Regions from separate parts of the Homo sapiens genome. Here regions 1, 3 and 4 are each linked to region 2. Evidence: fine-mapped expression QTL. A gene starts in region 2. Each other region holds a variant in brackets. All regions are shown on one strand. Distances are from middle to middle. Region 1 holds the start of LOC105369938 (a long non-coding RNA gene). Region 2 holds the start of CHPT1 (choline phosphotransferase 1). Region 3 holds the start of LOC124902997 (a long non-coding RNA gene). Region 4 has its middle 12 kb from the start of ARL1.

Region 1 (8,108 bases), 80 kb before region 2:
TAAACTTATTTATGGCCATCTGAATAAAAGTTTTTAAAAAACAATAAATTGGAGTTTATACTAGCCCCAAAATCAGTGATGGAAAAAGACATGATTGCATCCTGGCAGGCCTGCATTACTGTTTTCTTGATTTCTGTTACGGTGCAATCCATTCATTTTTCTATGCTCATTCCAGCCTTCCTAGACTAGAACGGGGCATTTGGCCTACACATAGTGGTGACTGTTCAGCCAAACTGCTTGTTATGGGGCATCGTCCGCCCTGCTTAACAAGAGTCACTTGTGGAAAAAAATGTGGAAAATCCCATATGCTGACAAAGGCTCCCAGGATTCCACAATGTGCCTATAATACAAAAACTTTGTTATCTTTATATTTTATTTAGTAATCAAGTAGAAGATAATTTTAGAAGCGATCACCTTCATTAACTGCCTCTTCTTGTCCTGGAGATGAAGCAGGTGGTTCATGAGTGAGTGATACTCACATGTCACTAATTCCCAATTCTGGGCATCCACAGGGATTTGGCACGGGAAATGCTATGCTCTTTGTTCATGTGGATGCCTTTACCTACTTGGAAATAGTATGTTCTTTAACAGAAGTTTCTTTGTCAGACTTCATAGCCAGACTGCTCTGTAATAACCAGACATCGAAAGCCAGGTAAACCAAAACCAAACCTCAAAACCAGAGCCTGGAAAATTTTGGATAGGTGTAGGTGGGAATCTACTCCAAGCACGTATGCTTCCAGAAACAACTCTGAGAGGGCTTAATTCTGTTTCCCAGTGAATTGCACCGTCCTTGTAAAACAACAACAACAAAGCACTGCAAAGCCAGAGGACTTTCATGTCATCTGCTTTCAGAAAGTGTCTCTCATGCAGGCAGAACAATGTTGGCGATGCAGTGGTGCTCTTGCTTTCTGGGAAAAAGGGGTCTCATTTCTGCACCGACCTTACCTTAGACTCTACGGGATATGCTCACCATATGCTTGCTACCCATTGTGTTTCACTTCATCCTAACAGCAGTCCTGCCCATATAAGATGCGGCCATTTCTCTAGAGGCAGGAAAACAGGCTCAGCACAAGTAAATGCCCGGCCTGCCTCTGGAGGGGATAACTAAGTGGCAAGGACACTCGGATCCCCATTCTACCTTTATCTTTCCATCACTACACCATGCCACCTCCTGGAAATCTATATACCACACATAAATGGCAGCATGTATGTCTTGGGCCTCTTGATGCAGTAGGGTGTGTGTGTGTGTGTGAGAGAGAGAGAGAGAGAGAGAAGAGAGAATGTGTTTCCCTCCTCCATCCCTCTTGTGAGTACACACAGGTGAGATGGCTGCCTGCAGCAGAAGCTGCCTGGGGCTGTAGAAAGCAGTTCTTCTCTGTGATAAATGAGCCTGACATTTCCATGACTCTTTCCATTTCTAGAAAATGAAGTGCCAGCCCCAGCCCCACCCCCGGAAGGTGAGTAAAAACACTCACTCACACACGTTTGGGCTGCAAATACAGAGGGTCCATCCCAGCATGATTTGGCCTCCACGGGTGCTGTGAGCTGTGAGCTTTAACCTAACTCCTACTGAGAAGTTGGATGGTGACCATTGTGATAAGTTGAGAATAATAAAAATAATACACTGTGTTTATATAATCCTCTTGTGTTAATCTAATTTGGATGGCACTTCATATATATTAGGGGGACAATTCTTATGAAACCTTTCAAATTATGTAAAAGTTATTATGTCCGCATTTTACAGTGTGGAGGCTGAGCCTCCATCCAAGGGGCTGAAGAATTTGTGAGGCTTTTTCCTATATAGTGAAGGTCAAACAAACCCACATCTTCTTTATGAGAGTGGGGAGTGGATCCATCTCTACCCTGGAAGATCAGCTGTCCCTTCTCAACTTGACATATGTCACTATTGAGCACCTCCAGAAACTCCCTAGCAGCTATCCAGAAAGGTTTGGTGACCTCTGAGGTTCAACGTGAGGACCAACTTCTTGAGTTCTTAGCACCATATTGTCCACCAGCTGGCAACAGGAAATGAGTACAGAGATCCAGTGAGACCCTTGGCAGGTAGGGCAGTCCCCTATGACACACAATATATGAAGCTTGTTTTTATGTCCACATACACCTAAAGAAGAAAAGAAAATTAAAAGATTAAAAGATTGAAAGCTCAATGTGGCTTAAACTCCCAACATGGCTCTTCAGAGTCATTTATCAGCCAAATAGCCCCAAGATGGAAGCAACCAAAATCATGTGCATTTTCCCATAAAGACTCCAAAGTGGCCTTCCTCATCCCTCTTCCTCCTTGAAAAGGATGAGAAACTGGCATCCCACTCAATAATTATTCACTAGGTATTTACCCTGTGCACAACTCTGACCTAACCCTTCAGAGGGATTCAGACATACCTATCATGTACGTATTGATAGCTAGGTGCAAGCATATTGTACCAGATGTAGTGGGGAACTCTACATAGAAAACATCTCCCTGTATTCAGTTTGTTTGCAGCCAAGTAGAAAATAGAATACAGCCTGGGAAACAATTAAATAAAATGCAGCCAAAACATTAAAACATTAGGCAATATTATAAGAACCCCCCGCCCCCCCCCCGCCCCCCCACACCAAGCAGTATGTGATTACTTGTGAGTTGCTTAAACTGGCAATGTGTTATGAAGCCAGCAGGTGACTGTAGACCTGGTCCAGCTTAGGTGAAAGCAGGAGTTTGGAGAAGGTCTCAGTTTCTAATCATCTTTTCACACAAAAACTTATGAGGCAATTATAAAGCTCTTCCTCTTCCTCCCTGGAGATCGTTTTTCTTTTTTCTTTGTTTTCTTTTTTCTTTTCTTTCTCTTTCTTGAGACAGGGTCTTGCTCTGTTATCCAAGCTGGAGCGCAGTGGCACCATCACAGCTCACCGCAGCCTCAAACTCTTGGGCGCAAGCAGAGATTGTTTTTCAGGAGGGCAGTTTGAGAAATCTAGCTGCTCACAAGAGGCCCTTTGTCCAGCTAAGAATACTAGATTCACACACTCAAACCCTAAACAGTATAGAGAAGTATTACTATGTGTCGAAATGAACGAAAACTGGCTCAGTGCCATATGAGTTCAAACGGGAAAGCTCAGATTTATTTTCTTTAGATCTTGATCTTGAAACTAGTGTAGATGTGTGACATTCTTCTTAGGATCTTCCTGTTCCTTGGTATGTTTTCTCCTTGCCCATAACAAATGTACTTTGACCAACATTGAGTACACTGAGAACCTACTGGCCATTATAAACAAACCTTTCCCTTCTGTTTTTCAGATCAGTTACTGCCACTGAGCCACTATCGTTTCCTTTGTATGTCATATTTCATATTCATTGCACAATATTGACTT[C/A]CTGTTGCTCAAATGTCTCCTCCCAAATTCTGCTAAAATTGTCCTTCTTAGTTAACTGAGATTTGAATCTCCATTCATCAGTCCGAAAAAAGAGAATGCATTCTTGAAACAATTCTTTTCTTACTGATTCCATAAGTCAGATACCATTTGCAGGTCTAAACTAATATGATCCCAAACACAGAGAAATGCAAACTAGATGGTCTCAACTGGTAGAATCTGATGTTACTGCTCTTGTTTTGCATTTATTGCCACTAAACCCAATCCAGAAGATTCACATGGACACTGAAACATTTTCTTTGAAGCAACATACACTGCACACAATTACATATTTTGTACTTTACTAGAAAATCTAGAAGTCCAAACTCTTGGAATCATTACATGGGGCAAACTGACTTTTCTTTAAAAAGTCAGTCCCTTGCTGAGGTCTAAAATAAAGTGGCTCACATTTGTTTTGCCTAATTCTACTCCAGCATGTTATATAACATGATCCAAGTATAGTTGAGTGCATTTTAACAAAATCTGTATTGAGTGTTCTTATGTGTACTTTTCCAAAAATGATCAGATTAATTGCTTTTCACTAAAAGTTTAGTGTGGCTCTAAGTTATAATTTCTAAATTCATAATTCATGTACAGCACGAGTATTCAGTATCATTTATGACCTGTTCTGCTGTCATTTATTTCTTCCCTCCCCCTCTCCACCCCGTTGCTCATCACACAATAAAATGCTTTAAGGCACTTTAAAAAATATGCTTGTACTTTCTACACAGAACCAAGTAAAGAGAAGGAGGCCGGAACTACACCAGCAAAAGGTGAGTTGGAGGGAGGGAGAGTGAGGCTGAAGTCAACAAAATTAGAAGCAGAAAGAAGTCAGTAATGATTGTCATGGTGGCTCCATAGAATTTCTCTGCATTATCTTTCGTTCTGCCTTTGCATCTTATCTGCAAGTCCCAATCAGTATAATGACAAATGGTGCATTGCTAAGTTTCCATTACATGTATTTCTAAAAGAAAAACAACAATGATAAAAATATCACAAGCACTTGTTGAGATGCCAGCAAATTAATTGGTAGTTTCCAAGTTTCGACATGCATGCTAAGAAAGAGAGGTGTTTGGTCTTCTTAGGATTATATCAATTGGGAAAATTATCTGAATTACCCGGTTTTTTTTTAAATTAAATGTTTTCATGTTATTGTGTGAACTGTTCCAGGGTTCACTAATAATTTTGAAGGCTAGCATCTCACTTTGTAACACTGACTATGTATTCATGTAGATTTATATAATGATTTCTACAGATACACAATATAACATTAAGAAGACATGTTGCCCCTTCTTGAACTGGAAACTATTCCTGTAATATTATCCTATTTTTACTTTATATGGAGATAGTCTCATTTTAGAAAATAATCTTAATCATATACTTCTGTTACTCCATGAAATGCTAATTCCTTTGTCTCACCATGGAAGAAATGATTATCATTACTGACCATCTGTCTTAAGCTAAGGAGCATTAGTCTTTCATAGAGGGAAGTTTCATGAAGGTGGATTAGACAGCTTTGCTGTATATGTTTGTATTGTCATTTTAAAAGTGAACCTTTTATTTGCATAATGAATAAAAAAGTTTAAATTTTGGAATAACTATTTCCTGACTGCAACAAGAAGTTTCTCTTTTTCCTGGACACTGCTCAAAACCATGTTAAGTATCTCTTTGTTCTTGATGTGTCATATTTCATTATCTAATTTCTATGATATTCTTGTGTCCTATACATTAGTAAAATACTTTTTTCTTTCTTTCAGTAGATTGGATTACTTTCCTTCAGCTAACTTGAACTTATGCTCTCATAATGAACGCATAACGTTAGTATACTCACTTTGTCCTTGACCTTCAGTGGCTCCCATGGAGAGTAACATGAATACTAATCCTGGCCACGTGGGCGCAGTTTGAAGGTTATTTGCTTATGGAATGCAGACAGTGCAAACTCCTAGAACTCCTTCCATGGGATGGTTTCAAGGAGGTTTGGGCATCCTGGCTGAAATTATTGTAATATTATTCTCTACAAGGCCAATGGGCATACACCTCTGTTTCCAAATTTGGAAAGGTGTTTGGGCCAGGCTGCAAGGCTCAACCAACAGAGCAGATGATGTAATCCCAGAGGGCAAGCTGTCAAAGTTTAAACAAAGCCTGTGCCTGACCCTTAATTTGAAAAGTCACCATATTATACTTGTATGCTTAAATGAGAAAATGTCTTTCCTTAAAGTCAACCAACCAACAAAAACTCTTTTATTTATGGAGAACACAGCGTGATGAAAGAGCAAGGCTAGATGACTAGGGCATTTTGAAATTAGTAGCATTTTTCTGACGTTTGCAGAAGATAAGCAAAACCATGACCACATGCAGTTGCATGCCCAGGTACAAAAACTGCCGTGTGTGTGTGTGTGTGTGTGTGTGTGTGTGTGTGTGTGTCTGTATATATATTATATAATGGCAAATACATGTATATATATATGTATTTGCCTTACATACCTAGGAAGCAAATCAATTTGGGATAGAAAGTGACATCCCTAAATAAAGAAGGTAAGTGAATGGAAGTTTATAATAAATATACAGTCCTCTTCATCAAGGACAGAGAAAATACCTATGCAAAAAGTAGACACAATAATTACTGCTACTTGGATATCCCCAGTTGAGAAAGGAGCCCTGCACGAGCATAAACAGGATTGATGGGTGCAACCTACCTTTTCTCCAGCATGAGCTAGAACTCTCCTGCTCTCCCTCCCTCCTCCAACTGTCAGTCTATTTTTTTTTTTTAACCATCCAACTCAGGTTTCACTTCTTTGAACAGCTTTCTCCTGACCATCCTGGCTTACTTTTATCTCCCCTTCTTTCTCCTGATTTCTCTTGGACCTGTTGCCTCCATCATTCAATCACTCTTGTCTCCACATAATCGCACATTAATGGTTGACTCCTTTTCCTAACAGGTTGTAAGCTTTTTGACATTGGCCCCCTCATCTTATTCCCTCCAGCATCTGGCAGAGAGCTGCACATAGCAATCATCTAATGAATACTTGCAAAATGAATGAGCAGTTGAATTTCCATGCTGGCTTAGCTGCTGACCATTCAATGGTAATCTGGATAGATTTTTATTTCCATTCAACATGTGTGCTGGGTAGGAGGATGAACATCCTATGTATGTTCTTAGTCACTGAGGGTTAGAATGAGACACTGCTGCAGAACAGAAGGATGATTTCCACTGTAAGACCAACTTGCCTAAAGCTACTGAAAATGGTCTTGCCTGGATTTTGGTACATTTTCAGCACTTTAACTGGTCTTCTATTTAATTGGTTGACATATATTCAATTAATTGCTCCAAATCTGTCACTATTAAGAATATTATTCATCGCAATCCAGCCTTAACATCATTCCCAGATTGATTGAATCATTCTGCAACAGCTCAGAAATGTTCTGAAAATGCTTTTTGAAGCCACAGAGAGTAGATTCTAGAAGATTTAATCTTAGAAGTAGTATTTGTGATTAGATTTGCCAACTTTTTCATATTTGCTAAAAGTCTCTGTCTGGAAAGCAGCCAATTTCCCAGCACGGGGTTTTATGATTGTTTGCTTGCTTGCTTGCTTGCATCTGGCTATCCATCCAGCTATCCTGTTCCTTAATACTGACCACTTTGTCCTGGGACCTGGGCAAAGTCTTCTGGAATTGAAACAAGAGAGATGACAATAAAGAAATGTGTTTAGCCCAACAGCAATAGCAGAAATTAGATGTGCAAATCTCCTTTAGAGGAATCATACCAGGAGGCAATGCCTTTATACAAATAACGCTGTCCTGGCTTAGAATTCTTTCATAATAATTATAGGTAGCAAATTGATGGAACACTAAATATAGATTCTTTTCTGTATGCTCAGTGGGGCCAAAGATTCGCCTTTTATTCTAGCACGTATTTATTCAGCAAGATTTGCTGAGTGTTGGCTACATGCCAGGCACAGATCTGGGCACTGGGTCCTGCCCTCCTGGAGCCAAGTTACACTTTATGGGGAAGAACAACCATCAACAGAGGAAGGTGGATTTCAGTTTTGAAAGCAGACAAGAGTCACAGAGGGCCATGTGTAGGGAATAACGTGGGTGATCAAGTGGGATCATACTTTTTTTTTGTCAACTAAGATCCAACATCCTATGTCTGAACATAGGGTAATTGGAGTAGGTTTCTGCTGTGCCTCAACAGCTGGCCCTGTGGAAAGTTCCGAAAATGGTTCTGTGGCTGGTCCAAAAAGTGACAGCAGCATTAGAATCAGAGGCCACTTTGAAGACCTGTACTCATTTCCATGCCTAAGTGCTGATATTTTATTTTTACATCTTATTAGCTTAGAGTCTGTATCTTTTCAATTGGTAAAGTTACTTCCTTTTTTTATTACTGCTTTTGGTAATCGTGAAAAGGGAAATAAAACCTTATTTTCTTTTCCCAGGCATTCACCACATAAACTATCGTGAATGAACCCTGTGTGTATTAAATATCTCACATAACCTGAGATGAAGTCTTTCTTTTTCATGAATGTGACTGGCAGATGAGGAAGTGAGTCAGCAGAAGTTCCAACCTGAATTATGTGATTTTGTTTTAAATTTAAAAAAATGATTTTTAAAAAAATTTAGGTTCTTTTACATCTGCAATAACATTACCCTGGTGCTTTTTACTAGCATGCTAAAATATTTTTGTACGATTTACCTTTAGGTGTCAATCAGCC
Region 2 (8,087 bases):
ACTACAGGTGCCCACCACCACGCGCGGCTAATTTTTTGTATTTTTAGTAGAGACAGGGCTTCACCGTGTTAGCCAGGATGGTCTCGATCTCCTGACCTCGTGATCCACCCGCCTTGGCCTCCCAAGGTGCTGGGATTACAGGCGTGAGCCACCGCGCCCAGCCTACTTTCACTATTTTTAAATTATGACATTTCATATTTGCAAAATATACAAATATGCCATCTATATCTATGTAGATATATAGTTACATAGATTGCATAAATAATAGTAAAATGAACATGTTACTACTACTCAGTTAAAAAACTGTGATTGAGACAGCTTGATGGCCCCCCACAATACCCACTCTCTCACTTTTCAATAATAATAGAAATGTTTTGGCCGATTGTGGTGGCTCACACCTGTAGTCCCAGCATTTTAGGAGGTCAAAGCGGGAGGATCATTTGGGGTCAGGCATTTGAGACCAGCCTGGCCAACATGGCGAAACCCCATCTCTACTAAAAATACAAAAATTAGCTGGGTGTGGTGGCACATGCCTATAGTCTCAGCTACTCAGGATGCTGAGGCAGGTGAATCACTTGAACCTGGGAAGAGGTTGCAGTGAGTTCAGATTGCGCCACTGCACTCCAGCCTGGGTGACAGAGCAAGAATCTGTCTCTAAATAAATAAATAAATAAATAAACAAGTAAAAGAAATTTTAGCTGGGCAGGTGGCTGTCTGGCTAAAGATTGCATTTGCAGGCTCTTTTACAGTTAGGCATAGCAGCCATGTGGCCAGGCTCTGGCCAATGGGATGAGAGCAGAAGTGATGTGTGCAACCTTTGATCATGGCCTTCAGAAGAAAGGAGCATAGCAGCCCCTTCTCTTTTTCCCCTTCCTATTGGTTGGGAGTCATGGCCAGCCATTTTTGATCACAAGGACAAGGGCAACATCTGAAAGGCGGCAGACTAATAAAATGGAAGAAGTCTGTGTCTCTGACACCATCGAGCTGCCATGTAGCCCTACCATGCCTACCCAGACATCAATGTGGGAAAAATAAACCTCTATTCCATTTAGGTTGCTGTAGTTTGCCCAGCTGTAGTCTAAAAAATTACCAATACCTTTGAAACTTGCCATGTGCCCCTCTATAATTGCATTTACCTTCCTTTCTATCAGGAGTAACCACTATCAGGATTGTACTTATAATTCTTTTCCTTTTCTTCATAGCTTTGCCACATGGGAGCTGCAAAGTGCAGTCACATGTTTTTGAAGTTTATATAAGTAAAATAATACTGTGTGTATTTTGCCTATGGCCTGCTGTTATGGACAGAATGGTATCCTGCCCCTGCTCCACCCCCAATTCATATGTTGAAGCCGTAATCCTCCACAATGTGATGGTATTTGGAGATGGAGCCTTTAGGATATTGGATATCATGAGGGTGGGGCCTTCATGATGGGATTAGTGCCTTTATAAGGACTTTATAAGGAGACACCAGAGAGCTTCCTCTCTTTCTCTCTCTGTCTGTCATGTGAAGACATAGAAGGTGGCCATCTGCAAGCCAGGAAGAGAGTTCTCACTAAGAAACACACTTTGACTTTGGACTTCCCAGCCTCCAGAACTGTGAGAAATAAATTCCTGTTGTTTAAACTATTCAGTCTACGGTATTTTATTATGACAATCCAAGCTGACTAATACATCTGCTTTTTTTTTTCACTCAACATATGCTTGTGCAATTCATTCATGTTCATAAGTGTACCTATAGTTCATTAATTTTTTACTGCCATATTAAACTTGCTATATAATATTAAATTACTTGAAAATACCAGTTTATTTACCCATTCAATATTAGTGGACATATAAGTTATTTACAGCTTTTAGTTATTGTACAGACAAAGGTGTCATGAGTATTCTTATACTTATCTCCTAGGATACATGTGCAAGAATTTCTTTAGGATCTGTTTCTGGATCAGAATTGTGGTGTCAGAGTACACACATCTTCAACTTCACCAGATCATGCCAGGTTGTTTTTCAAGTGGTTGTAACCATCTACTCTTCCTAGCAAACACTTCCACTTGGGTACGCCACATAATTAAGTTCTGGCCAATGAGATACATAATACAACAGTCCCCTTATCTCCAGAGACATATTCCAAGACCCACAACTGTTGCCTGAAACTATGGATAATGCCGAACCCTATATGTACTATGTTGTTTCTAATAACCAAGATGGCTAATAAATGAATAAAGGACAGGTGGCTTATATAGCAGGGATACACTGGACAAAGAGATGATGTAAGTCCTGAGTGGAGAAGAGTGGGACTGGGTGAGATTTCATCACGCTACTCAGAATGGCATGCAATTTAAAACTCACACTTTATTTCTGGAATTTTCTATTTAATATTTTTGGACTGTGGTTGACTGTGGGTATCTAAAACTGCAGAAAAGTAAAACCAGGGACAAAGGGAGACTACTGTATGGAGAAGTGTTGTTTGGGAGTTTTGGAGAGGCACCCCAGTTTGCTCACCAGCCAGTGATATCTACTTTTTGTTTTTCCTGTCCTCTTACTCCTTCCTGCTGCTTGAAACACAAATAAGATGACTGGAGCTTCACCAGCCATTCTGAATCATGAGATGGCCTTATAGATACAAGTCAGAGAGGATATTGGAGCAGAGAGACAGAAAAGCCTGAGTTCCTGATGACCATGGAAACATCGTACCAGTCTTGGAGTGCCAATTCTGTACTTCTTTTATGTGAGAGAGAAATAAATTCCTGTTGTCTAAGCTATTCAGTCTGTGGTATTTTGTTATGACAATCCAAGCTGACTAATACACCTGCTTCTTTTTTTTTTTCAGTCAACATATGCTTGTGCAATTCACTCATGTTCATAAGTGCACCCTGGAACATTACCATGTTCCAGGGCTTCTCCTATAGAAACAGAACATAGCCCAGTTGATTATTTTTTATTCTGATTGATTTTTAGGAGTTCTTTACATAATCTGGGTTCTACTCATTGTGGGTTTTGAGGGAAATACCTTTTCCCAGTTTATGGCTTGTCTTTTCATTCTCTTGATGACGTCTTTTGATGTACATTAAAAATTATCTTTAATACAGTGAAATCGGCTAATCTAGAAAAGGATTTTTTCCTTGGACTGTTCATGGCATCGGTAAATTAAAAAGTAGTTACTGTCAAGTTCACTGCACATAAACCAGCATTGTTAAAAGTGGATCTCCATCATTCCATTTCCTTTCCTGCATTTGTCAGCATCGTTTTTCACACTAAAGATGAGGAGATCCATATTCCTAAGACATATACGCTTGGTCTGTAGAGACCCTCATTGCTCTAAGGCAGTGGTTGCCAGTTTTTTCCTTAAAGGGCCTAGTAGGACATAGTCCAGGCTTTGCCAGCCATACGGTCTGTCACAACTGAATTCTGCTGCCCTTGTAGCATGAAGGCAGCCAAACAATAGGTAAGGAATAAACATGGCTTTATTCGTGGCACTGAACTTTGAATTTCATATAATTTCACAACACAAAATTGTATTCTTTTGATTTTTTCCAATCATTTAAAAATGTCAAAACCATACTTAGCTGGAGGGCTGTAGGAAAACAGGTGGTGGGCTGGGTCTGGCACACAGGCAGCAGTTCGTGGACCCCTGTGCCAAGTGTTTGACGAAGCCCGTGAGGCAAACTGCACTTGCCGATAGAGGTTGCGCCACACAAGTGTCTTGGAAGCAATTTCTGGCTTGTCCTAGGCCTTAGAAAGTGCGTGCAGATCAGAGCCATGAAGTGAAGAGCAAAGCAAGTGACAGGCCTGTCTCAGGTTGTGCAACAGAACGTGTTTATGACAGATGTCCCCTGTCCAAGTGAGTGCACTGTGAGATAAGGGGCCGGTGACCTACCAATGCGTGTGGCAAGCCAGCCTGTTCCCCCTTGCAGGGGGAGGACACTCCTGCCCTTTATTCCAGGGAAGAGTATGTGTAAAAATATTCACCCTTGTTGGTATCAAATGCGCTGAAGAAAATAGGTATCGGGGTTTCAGCCATTCGGTCTCCTTGTTAGTGTTTCTAAGCCCTGATTTTCAGTTTCAAAACCTTGGTCTCTGAATCCGCAGTGATGGGTCTCTAGAGCGAATACATGGCAGGGCCGCCTTCCTCCGTACAGAAAGGGAGAATTGTGCTTGTGTGTTTTACCAAGCAGGACAGATGGGGCCGTCACCCCCGTGACCCGAGCCCTGCAAAACTGTGTTCTCACACGAAAACCCCCAGGCTCTGCGGGCAGCGTGGTCCTGCAGTGGCTAACACTGGGCGACCGGAGTCGTGTTCCGACCCCTAGGAGAGGAACCGGCTCGGTCGTGGTGCAGCCCGCGAGGAGACGACCTCAGGGCGTAATCCGACGCCGTGGGTTAAGACATCAGACCTCAGGCGCAGTGCAGCCGGCCCCTGGGGAGTCAAGGACCTTGATCGCCGATAACAAGTTGCCGTTGGCGGGCGCCGAGGGTGACCCGCGAGCGCGGCACCCGCCTCCCCGCCCCTAGCAGGACCCCCTCCGCCCCGCCCCCAGCCGGACCCCTCCCCGAGGCCCCGCCCCACCCGCGAGCCGCAGCCGCGGCCCCACAGCTTCTGGGGCTGGGGCCCCGGCAGCCGGGCAGGCCGGCCTGACCTCGACCTCCGCCGTGCGGGCCCGACCGGTGAGTCCAGCCCGGCAGTCGCAGGACCCGGCCGCCAGCCTCTCCCTCCACCTCTCCCTGCCCCCAGCGCCAGGCGCGGGCTGCGCTCGGTGGCGGCGGCGGGGCCCTCAGGCGGCCATGGCGGCAGGCGCCGGGGCCGGGTCCGCGCCGCGCTGGCTGAGGGCGCTGAGCGAGCCGCTGAGCGCGGCGCAGCTGCGGCGACTGGAGGAGCACCGCTACAGCGCGGCGGGCGTCTCGCTGCTCGAGCCGCCGCTGCAGCTCTACTGGACCTGGCTGCTCCAGTGGATCCCGCTCTGGATGGCCCCCAACTCCATCACCCTGCTGGGGCTCGCCGTCAACGTGGTCACCACGCTCGTGCTCATCTCCTACTGTCCCACGGCCACCGAAGAGGTAGGGCTGGCCGATCGCCCGAGCCGGGCCCCAGATGCGCTGCGGGCGGGTCGCTGGAGGCGCCGGGGGAAGGGCGGACCCACGCGCGGCTGAGCCTCTCCCGGGCCCCGGAGGGGCGGACTGGCCACTGCCCCGGGCGGTGTCCGCCCTGGGCCGCCTGGAGACTGTCACGCCACTATCCCAATCCCGTGACCATCCCAAGCCTCCCCTGGGCAGCGGAGGGGCTGTTAAGGTCACTGCCCCAGGTCCTATGTCCGCGCAGATCCTCCCCACGGCCGCGGACGGGCCGGAGGGCGCCTGCCCAGCCGCTATCCCATGCGGCGCCAACCTGTGAGACGGACCCGCGGTCGGGTGCTTTGCACACTGGGGACTGAACACCCCCATCTCCGTCCTGCCTGGCACAGGGACTTGTGCCAAGCCCGAGACGCCCTTTGAATACTTTCGTAACCGTTCGTTTCTGGAAGGTTGAGCTAGTGATCTTGAAATGACCGGTAGCACTGATCAAAGATGAGTTAAGAGGTAACTTCCTCTTTGCTTCATCGACTTTTTCAAGAAAAACAAACTGGAATGTTATCAAGGCAATAATTTTTTTGTCATCACAACCTAGGGATTAAAAAAACCCCAACATTTTATTAGCAATAATTACATTTGACCTTTGTACAAAATAAGGAGTAAATATAGGCTTTGGATAGCTGTTCATCAGAAGCACCCTTTGGGCTGAGTGTGGAGGGATAGGGGGCAGAGTGGAGTTCACTCCCATCTATAGTTTATACTACGTGGGATAAATATTACATTGCACATTCTGTGACATTACTTTCTATTCTCTGCTCCAAATAGTGAAGTCCCTTTATAATCATTTGAGTGTAGGCCTTGTGGAGGACTCATGGAGGTTGAGGTTGGATTAACAGAAATACAGTGGAAATATTTCATGCCCTCCATGCATGCATCCATTTTGTTGTTGTTTTTGAGACAGGGGTTTACTCTGTCACCCAGGCTGGAGTGCCGTGCCGTGGCTCGATCTCGGCTCACTGCAACCTCCGCCTTCAGGGTTCAAGCGATTCTTCTGCCTCAGCCTTCCAAGTAGCTGGGATTACAGGCGCGTGCCACCACGGCCGACTCACTTTTGTGTTTTTAGTAGATACAAGGTTTCACCATGTTGGCCAGGCTCATGCATCCTTTAAAAACAAAAATTTGATCGAGCCTACATTTTAAAATATCTTGTCAATGGATTGGTATGCTTATTATGTATTTCTTTTCTTTTTTTTTTTTTTGAGACAGAGTCTCGCTCTGTCACCCAGGCTGGAGGGCAATGTGGTGATCTCGGCTCACTGCAACCTCTGCCTCCTGGGTTCAAGCGATTCCCTTGCCTCAGCCTCCTGAATAGCTGGGACTACACGTGCCTGCCACCACGCCCGGCTAATTTTTGTATTTTTAGTAGAGACGGGGTTTCACCATATTGGCCAGGCTGGTCTCGAACTCCTGACCTCAAGTGATCCGCCTGCCTCGGCCTCCCAAAGTGCTGGTATTTACAGGAGTGAGCCACTGCGCCAGGCTTATTATATATTTCTTAATAGACATTCCCATTGTCATTTGCCATTGCTATTCATTTACATATTACATATGAAAAAGTAAGCTGCTTTAGTTTTTGGCTGTTTTGCTGCCTGTTTCTAGAATTTACCAGAGGGAGTGTGTTAGAATGAAAGGATAGCTGGGTTGGAAGTGGAGGTCTTGGTTTCTAACTGGCTCTTCCACCACAGACCTGCTGGGTCTGTGTTCCCACAGATACAATAGAAAATAATGCCTGCCAAAACAACTTGACAAGGATGCAGTGAGGACCAAATGATATATATGCAGATAAATGTAAAAGATTGCGATGTGCCTAACAAATTAAAAATATCACTCAACACATTAAAAATATTACTGTTATCAGACAACATCCTGAAAACACATAATAAAATTTAGTTTTGATTGGGTCCAGATTTAGCTAACAGCATTTGAATGTTTCTGATATTGGCCAGTTAAGTTGTGGACTCTTCAATGTTATTATTAATTTAAGAAGCATTTGTTGAACACTTAGAAAGAGCAGGGCTTACCAAAAAAGTCAAGAGCTTCTGCCTAGGGAAGTAAAGGGAGGCCTGATGGAAGAGGTACGTTTATGATTAATTAGTTTTTAGGATCAGCCTCATGTGAAAAAAAAAAAAAAAAGGGTGGAGGGTGGGGATTGGAGGCATTTAAAAATAAAGTGCAAAATCAAATGGCCCAAGAAGGGTAAATGAGAGTTAAAAACAAGAGTTTCTGAAATGTATGTCACTAGAACCTTCATATGCTTCTGAGTGACTGATGCAGGGAGGGGAAACGCCATTACAGGATCCACATTGCTTGTTTGGTGAAAGCCCAGCAACAGTGTGAAGAGTGTAGCAGTTTCTGGCTATTTTCTCTTAAGTTCATAGAACTAGCAAATGACTGGATCAGGTAGGATTCAGATCTAAGTTGGTATGACTTCAAAAATAAAAAGATCCTATGTTTTACATAATACAAATATGTAAAGTGCTTTCACATCCATGGTTGCATTTGTGTCTTGTTATCAGCCAAAGAGGTTAGCAAGTTTTCCGCTTCCTACAATGGCCCTCCTACCACCTCAGTATTTCTTCTATCCATCTATCCTGAAGTAACAGTAGTATATGTTTTCATAAGAGGAAATTGAAGCCCAGAGATGTCAAGTGACTTTCAACTGGCTTGGGACTTGTTTTCTGATTCTCAGACTTAAGAATTCTTAGTGTTTTTTTCAGACTTGACAGATTGCTTCCAGAAAGAGTCAGCAAAAACACATAAGGTTTTTCGATTTAGATGCTTGGGCTTATCTACTCATATAGGCTTTAATACTGAGTGCATGAATAATAACATTTGATACGTTTTTAAGCATGATGCTAATTTCTAGAACATGACTGGGGATAAAGGGAAACTAATAGAAAAAAGTTGTGATTTATATTTAGCTTCTGCAAACTGCTTTTCAAGCCATCATTTCCAATAAGGAA
Region 3 (8,108 bases), 47 kb after region 2:
CCTGTAATCCCAGCTACTTGGGAAGCTGAGGCAGGAGAATCGCTTGAACCCGGGAGGCAGAGGTTGCAGTGAGCAAGACCATGCCATTGTACTCCAGCCTGGGCAACAGAGTGAGACTCCATGTCAAGAAAAAAAAAAAGAAAATTGCGGAATAATATGTAAATTATGAAACATGATGAACATACCACCTAATTTATGAAGTAGGGCTTTACCAACATTCACTGAATCTCCTCAGGCAGGCCTTTCCATCCGATCCTCACCAGGACCCCACCCTTCCCCATTCAGGGATATAAGAAAATTATCCTAAATTTATGTAAATCATTCACCCTTCCTTATTTTCTAAGTTTTATTACCACATGAAAATGTGTCGTTAAACAACACGGCTTAGTTTCGTTCGCGTTTGGCATTACAAAAAATTGTCCCATAGTCTATGTAGTGTTCTGACAGTCCACTAGAATGGCAAAACTACAAAATATGACTACACGGAGTGATGATGAATCTATGTAACAAAGGGAACCCATTCAGTGGGTGGGAGTATAATTGTAAAACAATTATTTGGTGTAACTGGAAATCACCTATCAATTGCAAAACAATTTTTGAAGATACAATTTATGAAGGAAATGAAACTCACCTATAATCCCACTACCCAGAAATAATATACAGTTTAAAATTGGGGGTATTATTGCCTTTCATCCTTTTTTCTGTGCTTATATGTATTTTCCCCCAAATAATTTTAAAATATATTTCAACCTTTGTACCTGCCTTAGTTTGCTCACAGCTCTGCAATCCTTTTTCTATTTGAAATCATACATTTTACTTTTTTTTTTTTTTTTTTTTTGAGACAGGGTTTTGCTCTCTTGCCAAGGCTGAAGTGCAGTGGCATGGCATGATCACGGCTCACTGCAGCCTTGATTTCCTGGGCCCAAATGATCCCCCTGTCTCTGCCTCCTGCGTAGCTGGGACTCATGCACGTGCCACCATGCCTGGCTAATTAAGAAAAAAAAAAAAAAAAAGTTTGCCGAGATGGGGTCTCACTATGTTGCCCAGGCTGTTCTCAAACTCCTAGGCTCAAATGATCCTCTCACCTCGGCCTTCCAAAGTGCTGGGATTACAGGCATGAGCCAACTTGCCTGGCCTATATTTTACTTCTTTAATATTTGGCAAAGGCTTCAGGATCTTATTGACGCCAATCACTTTTCAACTGCCTAGTTCAAGTAAGAGATTCAAAGGAACCCTCCTGTTTACTGTTTTGCTTTGAATCCTCTTCCTTATGATGCTCAGCATTCCACTGGCTCGTTTAAATACACCAGTGTATTGGGTAAGGAATGACGGATGACGACTCCCAGACTTGTTCCTGTAATTCCATTCACTACATCAAACCTGTTGATACAGGATACAGTGAACCTTGTAAATTTTTCATTACTGAAAGGATTCAAAAAAGTTTGTAAAGCGTTAGTACAGTACCTGCCACATAATAAATGTGCCATAAATGGTGGCTTTTATGATTGACAATTGGTCCCAATTGGAATCCTGCTTTTCCTCTCTTGCCAGCCTCATTCTTGGCCTCATACTGCATCAGCCACATTGCGTTTTCCCAAATGTGCTGTGCACTCTTATGCCTCCATACCCTTATAGATGCTGTTCTTATTAAGTAGTTCCATTCACTACATCATCATATTCAGTTGTTTTTCCTACAGTGACCCTTACAGAAGAGCATCTGTCATTTTTCTTCTTTATTCGTAATAAAAATTTCCCAAGATTATCTCCAGCACCTTGGCATTTCACTGCTGTAAAGAGCATGTCTGGAGATTTCACCATGTGCTTCAGCAGGTAATTTATAGATGATTTTTAACCCACACACCAATATTTCATGACCTGTCTCAGCATTCATTCTTAGATGACCACATTGTTAATACTTCCCCATATAGATCATCACCCATTTATTCCAATCATCTGGATTCCTAACAAAACATTTTCCCATTTTCTTTAGTAACCAATGGTGTAGAATCTTGTCATTATTGTTTGAAAACCTAAATATTACATCCCTTGTTTCCTTACTCAGTCTCAAAGAACTCAGGTAATATAGTCGAAATCTTAGAGGCCAGGAGCAGTGGCTCATGCCTGTAATCTCGGCACTTTTGGAGGCTGAGGTAGGAGGATCGTTTGAGCCCAGGAGTTTGAGACCAGTCTGGACAAAATGGTGAGACCCCATCTCTATTTATAATAATTTTTAAAAACTCATAGAAATGTCTCCATAGATAAACTACTCAGTAGGTAATAAGAACAGCATCTTTAAGGGTATGGAGGCATAAAAGTGCACAGCACATTTGGGAAAATGCAACGTGGCTGACACAATGAGGCCAAGAATGAGGCTGGCAAGAGAGGAAAATCAGGATTCCAACTGGCACCAATTGTGAATCATAAAAGCCACCATTTATGGCGCATTTATTATGTGGCAGGTACTGTACTAATGCTTTACATTTTTTTAAATCCTTTCAGTAATGAAAAATTTACAAGGTTCACTGTACTCTCTATCAACAGATTTGATTTTTCCAATTGCTTTCAAGTATGGCAGCTTGCCTTCACCTTGAGTACCTAATCCAGGAACTTGGTCTTCCACCTGCACCATCTCTAATCTGTGAAGCTGGAAGGTGATGTTTTGTAAGCCCAGCATCCCTCCCCTCCTTCCTTGGGTAAAAATCTCCATCCCTCTGGCTACAGAGGTGGGCACAGAGCCCAGAATGAGCCAATCACAGTAACTCATCTCCCACCAGGATTTTCTATATTGAAGCCAGAGAGGAAACTTCCTGCCTCTCTGGAGTATGTGAGCCAGGAACTGCCATGTCCTCACCAAGGAGAGAAAAGCTGATGTGCATAGAGAAGCACAGATAGACAGTGCTGAGCAATGGTTCAGGAAGAGTATCTTCCTCCTGTACCCCTCTTTGTTTTTCCTTAAGAAGCTTGAGTTAGATTTGTCCCTTGCAATCCAAGTTTATTTAGTGGCTAAAAATTAATTTTGTAGAGACTTGGGTGGAAAAGCTGTCTCTTAACTTAATAGACCTGAGGTGAGGCACTAAACCTAGTTAGGCCCCAGTTCCCTCACTGATAAGTGGGGATATGGTGTGGATGAAATGAGATTATGAACATAAAGCATTTAGCACATAGATTGTGTACAGTAAGATATAGCTGTTATTAGGGCAAGTGAGAGGAGAAAAGCAATTAGACTGACAAGAAGCCCCCTTCACATCCCTTTAACCACCATGGCTCTGTACTCCTGTCACAAGGAAGCCTGGGATTTCCCTTAAAACATATCACAAAGAAAAACGGAGCATGAATAAATGTGGCAAAGTCTTGATAACTGTTGAGCAGATGAGAATTCATCTATTGGTCTTTTTAAAATTTTTTATGATCTTTTTTAAAGAAAGATCTGTTGAGATTATCATCCAGTTTCTTTTGGTCCTGCTGATGTGGTGAATTGATTTTCAAGTGTTGGGCCAAATTTGCATTCCTGGAGTAGGCCCC[A/G]CTTGACTGTGAAGTGTTGTTCTTCTGGGAATAACTGAATTTGGCCTGTTAGTATTTTGTTTGGGATTCTTTTGCAGTAGACTGCCCATGGTTTTTGTCTTGTGGTATCTGAGCCAAGTTTTACTGTTGGGGTTGTGTTTCAAGGGATGAGTTGGATGATACTGTATTTTGCTTTTTTCTGCTCTCTGGAAGAATTTGTGTGGGACTGGTGCTGTTTCTTCCTTAGATGTTTTGACGTAAGTAGTGATTACCCTTTAGTTTAAATGCTTAATCTGTTATTATTTGTATACTTCTTGGTATATGTAGAAATAATTTTCAAAATGAACACTTTTGCCAGGCACAGTGGCTCACACCTGTAATCCCAGCACCGTGGAAGGTCGAAGCAGGAGTATTGCTTGAGCCCAGGAGTTCAAGACAGCCTGGATAACAGTAAGACCCTGTCTCTACAAAAATATAAACAAAATTAGTCAGGTGTGGTGGAGCACATCTGTGGTCACAGCTGCTCAGGAAGCTGAGGTGAGAGGACTGCTTGAGCCTGTGAGGTTGACGCTGCAGTCAGCTGAGATCACGCCACTGCTCTCCAGCCTGGGGCAACAGAGTGAGATCGTCTCAAAAGAAACAAACAAACAAAAAACACTTTTGAAGACATAAGGTAGGTTAAAAAAATCCTTTGTAATTAGAAAATGTGTCACTTTTTTAGCTAAGAGCAATATAATCATCTCACCCTAATGACTAGACTAGGAGCCTCACCTCTGGCCTGGACAACAGTCTTTAACACGAATTTTCATCATTACCATCATCACCACTGACATTTAGCAGGCAGGACTATTTGCCAGGCACTGGGCTGCGTGTGTTGCACATGTCATTTCCTCTAATTATCACCATAAGCCTCTGTGGTAGCTACCAGTATTGCCTCCCACATTTTGGCAGAGAAAGCTAAATCACGGCAAGCAGTGTCCAGGATCCAGGACTTGAACTCCCGTAGTCTGACTGCAGAGTGTGCTCTTCACCCACATGTGCCACAGTCCTGGGGAGGCAGCATGGGCTGGTGGGGACAGGAAAGAGGGACAACCCGGGTTCCCACCCTACCTCTTCCTCTAACTGGTTGTAAGACCTTGAGCAAGTCATGTCATCCCCGTGGCCTTGGTGTCCTTGCCGATAAAAAGCAAGGGTTCGTCCAGACAGTTGTTTTGAAACTCTGCCCGAAGGGCCTGGGAGCTGGAGGGAACACCTTGAGAATCAGGCAGGAGAAGCAGCCTTCCTTCTTTTGTATCACAGAATTTTTATCTGTCCAAAATTCATGTTGAAACTTAACTGGCAATTTAAAAGTATTATGAGGTGGGGCTTTCAGAGGGTGATAAGTCATGGGAACAGAGCCCTCATCAATTCAATTAGATGTCTTTATTAAAGGGCTTGACAGAGGCAGTTTGTGCCTTCTTGCCCTTCTGCTCTGTGAGGACACGGCATTCAAGAAGCCATCTTAAAAGCAGAAAGCAGCCCTCACCAGACAACTAAACCTGCTAGCCCCTTGATCTTGGACTCTCGGCCTCCAGAACTGTAAGAAAATGAATTTCTGTTCTTTGTAAATTACCCAGTCTGAGGTATTTTGTTACAGCAGCACAAAAAAACTAAAACACAGAGTGACCTTTTCTATAGGATTTGAACAAATGGTTCTGACCATCTGACTGCTCATCAACTTCTGAGGTTCCTCTGTTCTAATGATTCTACTGAATCACAGAATCATTAGAATGAGTCTATGAATAGCCTATGATTGTATTATCCATCCCATTATCAAGCTCCTAATTAGGTATGGACTATATTCATCTAACCACAGAAATCGTCATTACAGACAAATGTTCATTTCTCTAACTTTTCTAGAATAAATCTCAGCTTTTATAATGATACCCAGATATCCTAAATTTTACCATATGATAAATTCCATTTAGAAACTATTTTCCCCCCATAAAGCAACATTCTTCTGTATAATACTAATCTTTCCTTACTTTCCACTTAATTTTAGTAATGTTCAGCACAGAACCTGATACACAGTAAAGGCACTCAAGTGACTGCTGAATCTGAGTAACAGTAAACTCAATCCTCAAAGATTTAAAAATCAAAGTGTCAGACAAAAATTTAACTTTTTATGAGATTTCAGTTTTTGAAATACACAACTCTTACAGCACAAACACAGTATTTACATTTCAAGTTCTTTGTACAAAAGATGTATGCCATTTTGGAAGAATATTGTTGAGATCATGATCTAAAATACCTGTCAGAGTTACTCATGGAATCTGCTCTTCACAAATCCATTGTATTATGACATAAAATATGGCTAGACGCCAAGGTTTAACCATACATAAAAATACTAATTCTCGGCTGGGTGCACTGGCTTATGCCTGTAATCTCAGCACTTTGGGAGGCAGAGGCAGGTGGATCACCTGAGGTCAGGAGTTCAAGATAAGCCTGACCAATATGGTGGAACCCCCGTCTCTACTAAAAATACAAAAATTAGCAGGGTGTGGTGGCATGCACCTGTAGTCCCAGCTACTCAGAAGGCTGAGACAGAACTGCTTGAACCCGGGAGGCGGAGGTTGCAGTGAGCTGAGATTGCGCCACTGCACTCCAGCCTGGGCAACAGAGAGAGACTCTGTCTCAAAAACAACAACAACAACAACAACAAAAACTAATTCTCAGTGATTGGCAAATGATGGCCTGAGGGTCACATCTGGCTGGTGGGCAGTTTTTGTACAGCTGCAAGCTAAACATGGTTTTTACATTTTTAGAGGGTTGTTTGAAAAAAAACAAACTAAACAACAGCAAGAAGAATGTATGACAAAGACACAGGTGGCCTGCAATAATTTACTAACCAGCCTTTTACAAAGAAAGTTTGCTGGCCTCTGTTCTATCAAAAACCAACTGAGAGAGATAGCTACTGGAATATACCAATGAGTATTAAACAAGACACCACTGTAATGTGCCAGTGCCATCAGCACTACTCATTTCTAAAATGAGGCACTTCTGTTTGAATATGTACATTTCCAAAACATAATTACATCTGGTAAGTAGTACTAACTCTAGCCCTTTGAAATTAGACCTGCACGTGAAATCATAGCATTCTTAGGGGCTGAAGTCAATAATTACAAAGCATTTCAGATGTCAATCATTGAGCTCTTCAGTAGTTAGTGGTTTAAGACCATTTACAGTCTTAAATATTAATAAAACTCATAATTTAGGTATTGTCAATAAGAGGTGATATTGCTGCATTATTTAAATAACATCTATAAAAATAGGTTTAGACATCCCAATTCGTTATACTCAGAAGCAAGAATAACTAGTTAACTTAGTAACTACTTAAAAATGGGAAATGAAAAAAAAAAAGTGCAAAACTTTAGCAAAAGGCTTTGGAATGCAAAGACTGGAGCCTCTTAGCAATCACTCCCAGCTGGCATAGGCTTCTCCTAATAAAGTTAGTCTGCAATGATTGCTGTGGGAAATTAACAGCTGTCTCTTGTCAGTGAGCCTTTTTATAAAAAGGATGACAGGTCCATGAGCAAATTCTTTAAAAGTAAAATCAGTTCAGAGCTGCTCAACACACAAGTTTTCAGTGGGTTGGTTAAATAATTCCTGGTCAGTGGGCTATATTCATGCCACAAAACAGCATGGTACTGGATATTTTCCTTCTTCGGGCCAAACTGCTAAGCATCACATCACAAAGACATCTCTGTGAAGCTGAGTTTTAAAATGCTCAGTAAATGCTGAGGTAGATGGTTTTCAAATGAAGATCTTCTATACTCTGATTCGATTGGGACTAGCTTCTTTGTGTATCCTCCTTCTGGGAAATATCTTCCGCTTAAGTGCAATTAACTAAATGATGAAAGACAGAAAATACATTTTAATTCTCACGTTGATGAAAGAATATAAGTGCATCAAACTTTCTAAGAGCCATATGACCTTAATCATTTCCACAATCTTATACATTAAAAAGACAACAAACAAATCTCCATCATTCCTCTTCCAAAACAAAAACAAATATTAGTTTTGTTTAGCTTTGTAGGGACAGTATGCCTAGATATGTGCCCACAAAGAGACCCAAGAGGATTAAAATTATTTCGGCCCATGCTTCATTTTTCTAAGACCTACAACTACAGATTTTTACACAGCTATTACCAAAGCATATTTATTTTCAAGATGTCCATTTGTCAAGTCTTTCTATTGAAGGAAACTGGCTCTATTTAGCCATAAGACACTGTCTCTGGGTTGATATGATGGCTTATTCCTTCATCTGTAGGAGGAGGCAGGGCTTTGCCCAAACATAAGACACCACGGTTTGAATGATGAGCTGGAATTTGGGAGGGGAGGAAGAGGCAGCATTGGCTGCTTTGTTTGTGAAGGTGGCAGGTATGGCAGGAGGAAGGAGTTTGACTCCAGTAGAGAGCAGAGTGTTGGGATTTAACCTGCCCTTCCCTTCCCTCTTCCTGCCTCTCTAGTTCCCTATTCTCTACTGGTATAGATAGACTGGTATAGATAGAGGAAAGACTGCCTCTCTAGTTCCCTATTCTCTACTGGTATAGATAGAGGAAAGACTG
Region 4 (8,108 bases), 280 kb before region 2:
TTGAATAAAGATGCTATTAACATCTCTGCACAAGTTTTTGTGGGTACATATGTTTTCAGTTCTCTTGGGTATATACCTAGGAGTGGAATTGGTGGGTCATATGTATGTTTAACTTTTTGAAGAACTACCAAACTATTTCCCATGGTGGCTATGCCATTTTACATTCACACCAGCAATGCATCTGGGTTCTGTTTTTTCCACATTCTCACCATCACTTATTTTCCACTTTTTAAATTATAGCCATCCTAGCAGGTGGTTTGCATCGTGGTTTTGATTTGAATTTTGCTGATAAAAACTAATGATTTTGAAAATCTTTTCACATGTTTATTGGACATACATATATCTTCTTTGGAGAAATGTCTATTCACGTCTTTTGACCATCTTTTAGTTGGATTATTTTTCTATTGTTGAGTTGTAAAAGTTCTTTATATATTCTGTGTACTAGATCCTTATCAGATTTATGATTTACAAATATTTTCTCCCATTCTGTGAGTTTTTTCACTTTGTTGAGCATGCCCTTTGACACACAAACGTTTTTAATTTTTGTTTGTTTGTTTGAGATGCAGTCTTGCTCTGTCGCCCAGGCTGGAGTGCAGTGGCACAATCTCTGCTCACTGCAAGCTCCGCCTCCTGGGTTCATGCCATTCTCCTGCCTCAGCCTCCTGAGTAGCTGGGACTACAGGCGCCTGCCACCACGCCCAGCTAATTTTTTTATATTTTTAGTAGAGACAGGGTTTCACCGTGTTAGCCAGGATGGTCTCGATCTCCTGACCTCATGATCCACCTGTCTCGGCCTCCCAAAATGCTGGGATTACAGGCTCGAGCCACCGCGCCTGGCCAAAAGTTTTTAATTTTGTTGAAGTCCAGTGCTCTGGTTTGAATGTGTCCTCCAAAGTTCATGTGTTGGAAACATGATCCCCAATGCCACACTACTGAGAAGCGGGACATTTATGAGGTGATTAGATCATGAGGGCTTTATCCTCATGAATGAATTCATGTTGTTATCAAAGGAGTGGGTTTGTTATCACTAGAGTAAGTTTGTTATGAAAGCGAGTTCTGCCTTTTCTCTCAAGAATGCTCTCTTGCCCTTCCACCTTCTGCCATGGGATGACAGAGCAAGAAGGCCCTCACAGGATGCAGGCATCTTGATGTTGGACTTTCCAGCCTCCAGAATTGTGAGAAGTAATTTTTTCTTCTTTATAAATTACTCAGTCTACGATATTCTTTTATAACAACACAAAATGGACTAAGACATACAAGTTATCTATTTTTTTTTTCAGCTGGGTGTGGTGGCCCATGCCTGCAATCCTAGCACTTTGAAAGGCCGAGATAGGTGAACCACCTGAGGTCAGGAGTTCAAGACCAGCCTGGCCAACATTGCGAAACCCCGTCTCTACTAAAAATACAAAAATTAGCCAGGTGTGGTGGTACACACCTGTAATCCCAGTTACCCAGGAAGCTGAGGCAGGAGAATCCCTTGAGCCCAGGAGGTGGAGGTTGCAGCGAGCCAAGATTGTGCCACTGCACTCCAGCCTGGGCAACAGAGCAAGACTCTCAAAAAAAAAAAAATCTACTTTTTTCTTTTGTAGCTTGTGCTTTTGGTATCATATCTGAGAAACCATTGCCTAACCCAAGCTCACAAAGATTTACAGTTGTATTTTCTTCTAGGAGTTTTATTGTTTTAGCTCTTATATTTTGATCTTTTTCTATTTTGGGTTGATTTTTGCAAATCGTATGAAATATGGATCCAAATTCATTTGCTTGGCCAGGCTTGGGTGGCTCATGCCTGTAATCCCAGTACTTTGGGAGGGCAAGGCAGGCAGATCGCTTGAGGCCAGGAGTTTGAAACCAGCCTGGCCAACATGGTGAAACCTGTCTCTACTAAAAATACAAAAATTAGCCAGGTGTGGTGTTGCATGCTTGTAATCCCATCTACTCGGGAGGCTGAAGCAGGAGAATCACTTGAACTTGGGAGGTGGAGGTTTCAGTAAGCCAAGATTGCACCACTGCACTCCTGCCTGTGTGACAGAGAAAGACTGTCTCAAAAAAACAAAACAAAACAAAACAAACCCTGCCATGTGAATATCCAGTTGTCCTGGCACCTTTTGTTGAAGAAAGTAGACTTTCTCCATTAAATGGTCTTCACACCTTGTCAAAAATCAATTGATCATAGGTAATATAAATTTCTTTTTTCTTTTCTTTTTTTTTTGAGACAGAGTCTCTCTCTGTCGCCCAGGCTGAAGTGTAGTGGCGCAGTCTCCACTCACTGCAACTTCCACCTCCTGGGCTCAATCGATTCTCCTGCCTCAGCCTCCCAAGTAGCTGGGACTACATGTGTGTGCCACCACGCCAGGCTAATTTTTTTTTTTTTTTTGAGATGGAGTCTCACTCTGTTGCCCAAGCTGGAATGCAGTGGTGCAAACTCGACTCACCACAACCTCCACCTCCCAGGTTCAAGTGATTCTCCTGCCTCCTCCTCCCAAGTAGCTGAGATTACAGGCACCTGCCACCACGCCTGGCTGATTTTTTGTATGTTTAGTAGAGACAGGGTTTCACCATGTTGGCCAAGCTGGTCTTGAGCTCCTGACCTCAGGTGATCTGCCCACCTTGGACTCCCAAAGTGCTGGGATTACAGGTGTGAGCCACTGCACCCAGCCTCTTTTTTTCTTTTTTCCCTTTTTTTTTTTTTCTTTTGAGATGGGGTCTTGCTCTGTTACTTAGGCTGAAGTGCAGTGGCATAATCTCAGCTCACTACAACCTCTGCCACCCGGGCTCAAGTGATCCTCCCACCTAGGCTTCTGAGTAGCTGGAACTGCAGGTGTGCACCACCACACCCAGATAATTTTTGAATTTTTAGTAGAGACAGGGTTTCACCATGTTGCCAAGGCTGGTCTTAAACTTCTGAGCTCAAGTGATCTGCCTGCCTTGGCCTCCCAAAGTGCTGCTGGCATTGCAGAGATGAGCCACCACACTTGGCCCATCTTTTTTCTTTTTTTAAATAATTTTAACTAATTTTACAAAAAAAAAGTCAGTATTCATTTCACATTACTACATTACAAGTTTATTTCTGAATTTTCTTTTTTTTTTTTTTTCTGAGACAGAGTCTCCCTCTGTTGCCCAGGCTGGAGTACAGGGACACAATCTTGGCTCACTGCAACTTTCACCTCCTGGGTTCAAGTGATTCTCATGCCTCAGCCTCCCAAGTAGGTGGCATTACAGGTGCACACAACCATGCCTGGCTAATTTTTGTATTTTTAGTAGAAACGGGTTTTCACCATGTTGGCCAGGCTGATCTCAAACTCCTGGCCTCAAGTGATCCACCCACCTTGGCCTCCCAAAGTGCTGGGATTACAGGCATGAGCTACTGTGCCCAACCTCTGAATTATCAATTCTAGTCCATTGATGTATATGTTTATCTTTGTGCCAGTACCACACACACCGTGTTGATTTTTTTTTTTTTAATTTTGAGACAGAGCATTACTCTGTTGCCCAGATTGGAGTATGATGGTGCAATCATAGCTCACTATAGCCTCAAACTCCTGGACTCAAGCAATCCCCCTGCCTCAGTCTCCTGAATAGCAAGGACTATGAGTGTGCAACACTATCCCTGGCTAATTTTTTAATTTTTTGCAGAGATGGAGCCTCACTATGTCGCCCAGACTGGTCTTAAACTCCTGGCCTTGAGTGATCCTCCCACCTTAGCCTTCCAAAGTAGCTGTTGATTATAGTAGCTTTGTAGTAGGTTTTAAAATTAGGAAGTGTGAGTCCTCCAACTTTGTTCATTTCCTACTTTGTCTTGGCTATTCTGGGTCCCTTCCATTTCCATGTGAATTTTAGAATCAGTTTATTCATTTCTGCAAAAAAAAAAAAAGGCAGTTGGAATTTTTATAGGGATTACATTGAATCTGTAGATTAATTTGGGAAATGTCTTAGCTTTTTCCTGCTGCTATAACAAACTACCTTAGACTGAGTAATTTATAAACAATAGAAATTTATTTATCGTTGTTCTAGAGCTGGGAAGTCCAAGATCAACACACTAGCAGATTTGGTGCTTGGTAAGGATTGCTATCTGCTTCCAAGATGGCGCCTCTTGGTCCTTTCTCATATGGTTGAAGGACAAAAGGCATGGAGCACTCCTTTCTACCTTTTTTTTTGAGATGGAGTCTCACTCTGTCAGCAGGCTGGAGTGCAATGGCAAGATCTCGGCTCACTGCAACCTCCGCCTCCCAGGTTCAAGCGATTCTCCTGCCTCAGCCTCCCAAGTAGCTGGGACTACAGCACGTGCCACCACACCTGGCTAATTTTTGTATTTTTAGTAGGGACGGGGTTTCACCATGTTGGCCAGGATGGTCTCGACCTCCTGACCTCGTGATCCACCTGCCTCGGCCTCCCAAAGTGCTGGGATTACAGGCATGAGCCACCAC[G/A]CTCGGCCCCCTTCAACTTTTTTAAAAATAGTACTAATCCATACATGAGGTCAGAGCCCTTGTGAATTAATCCCTTCAATAGAAGTCCTACCTCTTAACACTGTCACATAAATAGAGTAGTTTCCCCTTATCTGTGGTGAACTTTTCGAGGTTTCACTTACCCATGGTCCACCTCGGTCCAAAAATATTAAATTGAAAATTCCAGAAATAATTCATAAGTTTTAAATTTCTTGCTATTCTGCGTAGCATGTTAAAATCTCACACCATCCTGCTCTGTGCTGTCCTGGATGTTAATTTTATCCCTTTGTTCAGCATATCCCTGCGGTATATGCTACCCACCTGCTAGTCACTTAGTAGCCATCTCAGTTATCAAATCAACTGTCACAGTATTACAGCGCTTGTGTTCAAGCAACTCTTGTTTTGCTTAATAATCACCCCAGGCTGGGCGCGGTGGCTCATGCCTGTAATCCCAACACTTCAGGTGGATCACCTGAGGTCAGGAGTTTGAGAACAGCCTGACCAATGTGGTGAAACCCCGTCTCTACTAAAAATACAAAATTAGCGGGACGCGGTGGCTCATGCCTGTAATCCCAGCACTTTGGGAGGCTGAGGTGGCAGATCATGAGGTCAGGAGTTCAAGACCAGCCTGGTCAACCTGATGAAACCCCGACTCTACTAAAAATACAAAAATTAGCTGGGCATGGTGGTGTGTGCCTGTAATCTCAGTTTACTCAGGAGGCTGAGTCAGGAGAATCACTTGAACCCCGGAGGCGGAGGTTCCAGTGAGCCGAGATCGTGCCCCGCATTCCAGCCTGAGCAACAGAGCAACACTCTATCTCACAAAAATAAATAAATAAATAAATAAATAAGCCGCGTATGGTGGCGCATGCCTGTAATCCCAGCTACTAGGGAGGCAGAGGCAGGAGAATCACCTGAACCCAGGAGGCAGTGGTTGTAGTGAGCTAAGATTGCACCATTGTACTCCAGCCTGTACGATAAGAGCGAAACTCCGTCACAAAAGAAAAAAAAAAGAAAAGAAAATCACCCCAAAATGCAAGAGTAGTGATCCTGGCCATTCTGATATGCCAAAAAGAAGCCTTTGCTTTTTCCAACCCTCCCTTCCATATTACTCATTTTCTGACTCCCATGCTTTGTACTCTGATGCAGTACTCTTAGTAATCAGCAGTGAGGAGATCTAGTCCTGGGCGCTCCAGAGCATTGTCATATACAGTTTGATACTATCTGCAGTTTCAGGCATCCACTGGGAGTCTTGAAACATATCCCCCATAGATAAGGTCAAGAGGAGGGTACCGTGTTGAATTCCAACATATGAATTTTGGAGGGATACCTACGTTCAAACCATAACAGGAAGTGCTGTCATCTTAACAACATTTATGGGCCAGGCACAGCAGTTTGTGCCGGTAATCCCAGCATTTTGGGAGGCCAATGCCTGGGTTTTGTAGGCCAAACCCAGGAGTTTGAGACCAGCCTGGGCAACATGGTAAAACCTCATAACTATTTAAAAAAAATAAAAAATTAGGCTGGGCGCGGTGGCTCACGCCTATAATCCCAGCATTTTGGGAGGCCAAGGCAGGCGGATCACGAAGTCAGGAGTTCGAGACCAGCCTGGCCAACATAGTGAAACCCCATCTCTACTAAAAATACAAAAATTAGCCGGGCGTGGTTGCATGCGCCTGTAGTCCCAGATACTTGAGAGGCTGAGGTGGGATAATCGCTTGAACTTGGGAGAAGGTGGTTGTAGTGAGCCGAGATCATGCCATGGCACTCCAGCCTGGGCGACAGAGTGAGACTCCCTCTCAAAAAAAAAAAAAAAAAAATTACAAAAATTAGCTGGGCATGGTGGCACACACCTGTAATCCTAGCTACTCAGAAGGCTGAGGTGAGAGGATCGATTGAGTTCAGAAAGTCAAGGTTGCAGTGAGCTGTGATCACACCACTGCACTCCAGCATGGGAAACAGAGAGAGACCTTGTCTGAAAAAAAAAAAAAAAAAAAACCATAAAAAACAATATTATATAGGCCAGGAGTGGTGGCTCATGCCTGTAATCCCAACACTTTGGGAGGCCGAGGTGGGTGGATCACCTGAGGCCAGGATTTCAAGTTCAGCCTGGCCAACATGGCGAAACCCCGTCTCTACTAAAAATACTAAAATTAGCCGGCGTGGTGGTGTGTGTCTGTAGTCTCAGCTACTCGGGAGGCTGAGGCAAGAGAATTACTTGAACCCAGGAGGCAGAGGTTGCAGTGAGCTGAGATTGTGCCATCACACTCCAGCCTGGACGACAGAGTGAGATACAAATACATATATAAATTTTTTTCAATGTTTTGGAGTTTTCAGTAACAGGTATTACAGTTCTTTGGTTAAACTTACTTATTTTGTTGAGACAAATGGTTCTTAACCTGACATTCTGTTAATTCACAGTAGACTTCTGGGAGCCTGCACACCTATTAAAGTTATTTTCAGAATTTTATCTCTGTGTGTACATGCATTTTTTTTTTTTTTTTTGAGATGGACTCTCGCTCTGTCACCCGGGCTAGAGTGCAATGGCGTGATCTCGGCTCACTGCAACCTCCGCCTCCCAGGTTCAAGCAATTCTCCTGCCTCAGTCTCCCAAGTAGCTGGGATTACAGGCGCGTGCTACCACGCCTGCTACCACGCCTGGCTAATTTTTGTATTTTTAGTAGAGATGGGGTTTCACCATGTTCGTCAGGCTGGTCTCAAACTCCTGACCTCATGATCCGCCTGCCTCGGCCACCCAAAGTGCTGGAATTACAGGTGTGAGCCACCACACATGGGCCATGCATTCTTTTCTCAGAAAGACAGTCTGGAACCTCTATCAGAATCTCAAAGGATCGGTCTCTGACCTAAATTTTTTTTTTTTTTTTTTGAGATGGAGTCTCACTCTATTGCCCAGGCTGGAGTGCAATGGCACGATCTCGGCTCACTGCAACCTCCACCTCCCAGATTCAAGTGATTTTCCTGCCTCAGCCTCCTGAATAGCTGGGATTATAGGCACGCGTTACCATGCCTGGCTAATTTTTGTTTTTTTACTAGAGACGGGGTTTCACCATGTTGGCCAGGCTGGTCTCGAACTCCTGCGCCTGGCCTGTGACCTAAATTTGTATTTTTGTTTTTATTTATTTATTATATATAATAAACAGAAATGTATTGGCTCATGATTTGGGAGGCTGGAAAGTCCAAGACTGAGAAGCTGACATCTGGCAAGGGCCTTATTCTGTGTTATCCCATGGTGGAAGGGCAAAGAGAGGGCAAGAGAGAGCCAAAAGGGGGCCAAACTCATCCTTTGATAAAGAAACTTTGATGCCTGGGAGCAGTGGCTCATGTCTGTAATCCCAGCATTTTGTAAGGCTAAAGAGGGTGGATCACTTGAGCCCAAGAATTTGAGACCAGCATGGGCAACATGATGAAACCTCATCTGTATAAAAAATTTAAAAATCAGCCAGGCACAATGGCTCATGCCTGTAATCCCAGCACTTTGGGAGGCTGAGGTGGGTGGATCACGAGGTCAGAAGTTCGAGACCAGCCTGGCCAATATGGTGAAACCCCGTCTCTACTAAAAATACAAAAATTAGCTGGGCATGGTGGCGTGCTCCTAGTAATCCCAGCAACTTGGCAGGCTGAGGCAGAAGAATCACTTGAACCCAG

The links. PIP is the estimated chance that this variant, and not a neighbour inherited with it, causes the effect.
Region 1: its variant is fine-mapped to the expression of CHPT1 in monocytes (TOPMed, PIP above 0.99). The same link has a PIP of 0.9 or more in blood mononuclear cells, non-classical monocytes and tibial nerve.
Region 3: its variant is fine-mapped to the expression of CHPT1 in thyroid (GTEx, PIP above 0.99).
Region 4: its variant is fine-mapped to the expression of CHPT1 in lung (TOPMed, PIP above 0.99).

The regions. Positions count from the first base shown.
Region 1 is chr12:101,613,075-101,621,182 of GRCh38, forward strand. It overlaps MYBPC1 (myosin binding protein C1), which reads left to right. Exons shown (of 32, transcript NM_002465.4): 2 at 1,422-1,457; 3 at 4,128-4,169. It overlaps LOC105369938 (a long non-coding RNA gene), which reads right to left and starts at 2,710. Exons shown (of 5, transcript XR_001749279.2): 1 at 2,629-2,710; 2 at 1,480-2,119. The variant C/A (reference allele first, on the strand shown) is at 3,361.
Region 2 is chr12:101,693,083-101,701,169 of GRCh38, forward strand. It overlaps CHPT1 (choline phosphotransferase 1), which reads left to right and starts at 4,558. Exons shown (of 9, transcript NM_020244.3): 1 at 4,558-5,052. The coding sequence starts at 4,780. It also overlaps a transcript of MYBPC1 not described here. RefSeq lists an enhancer at 4,032-4,281 and silencers at 4,502-4,841, 5,102-5,291.
Region 3 is chr12:101,739,856-101,747,963 of GRCh38, forward strand. GNPTAB (N-acetylglucosamine-1-phosphate transferase subunits alpha and beta) reads right to left here. Exons shown (of 21, transcript NM_024312.5): 21 at 5,644-7,386. The coding sequence ends at 7,309. It overlaps LOC124902997 (a long non-coding RNA gene), which reads left to right and starts at 4,135. Exons shown (of 2, transcript XR_007063424.1): 1 at 4,135-4,174; 2 at 4,933-5,112. RefSeq lists enhancers at 3,903-3,992, 4,113-4,222. The variant A/G (reference allele first, on the strand shown) is at 3,523.
Region 4 is chr12:101,415,908-101,424,015 of GRCh38, forward strand. No RefSeq gene overlaps it. Among named protein-coding and RNA genes, the nearest start is that of ARL1, 12 kb to the left of the region's middle. The variant G/A (reference allele first, on the strand shown) is at 4,425.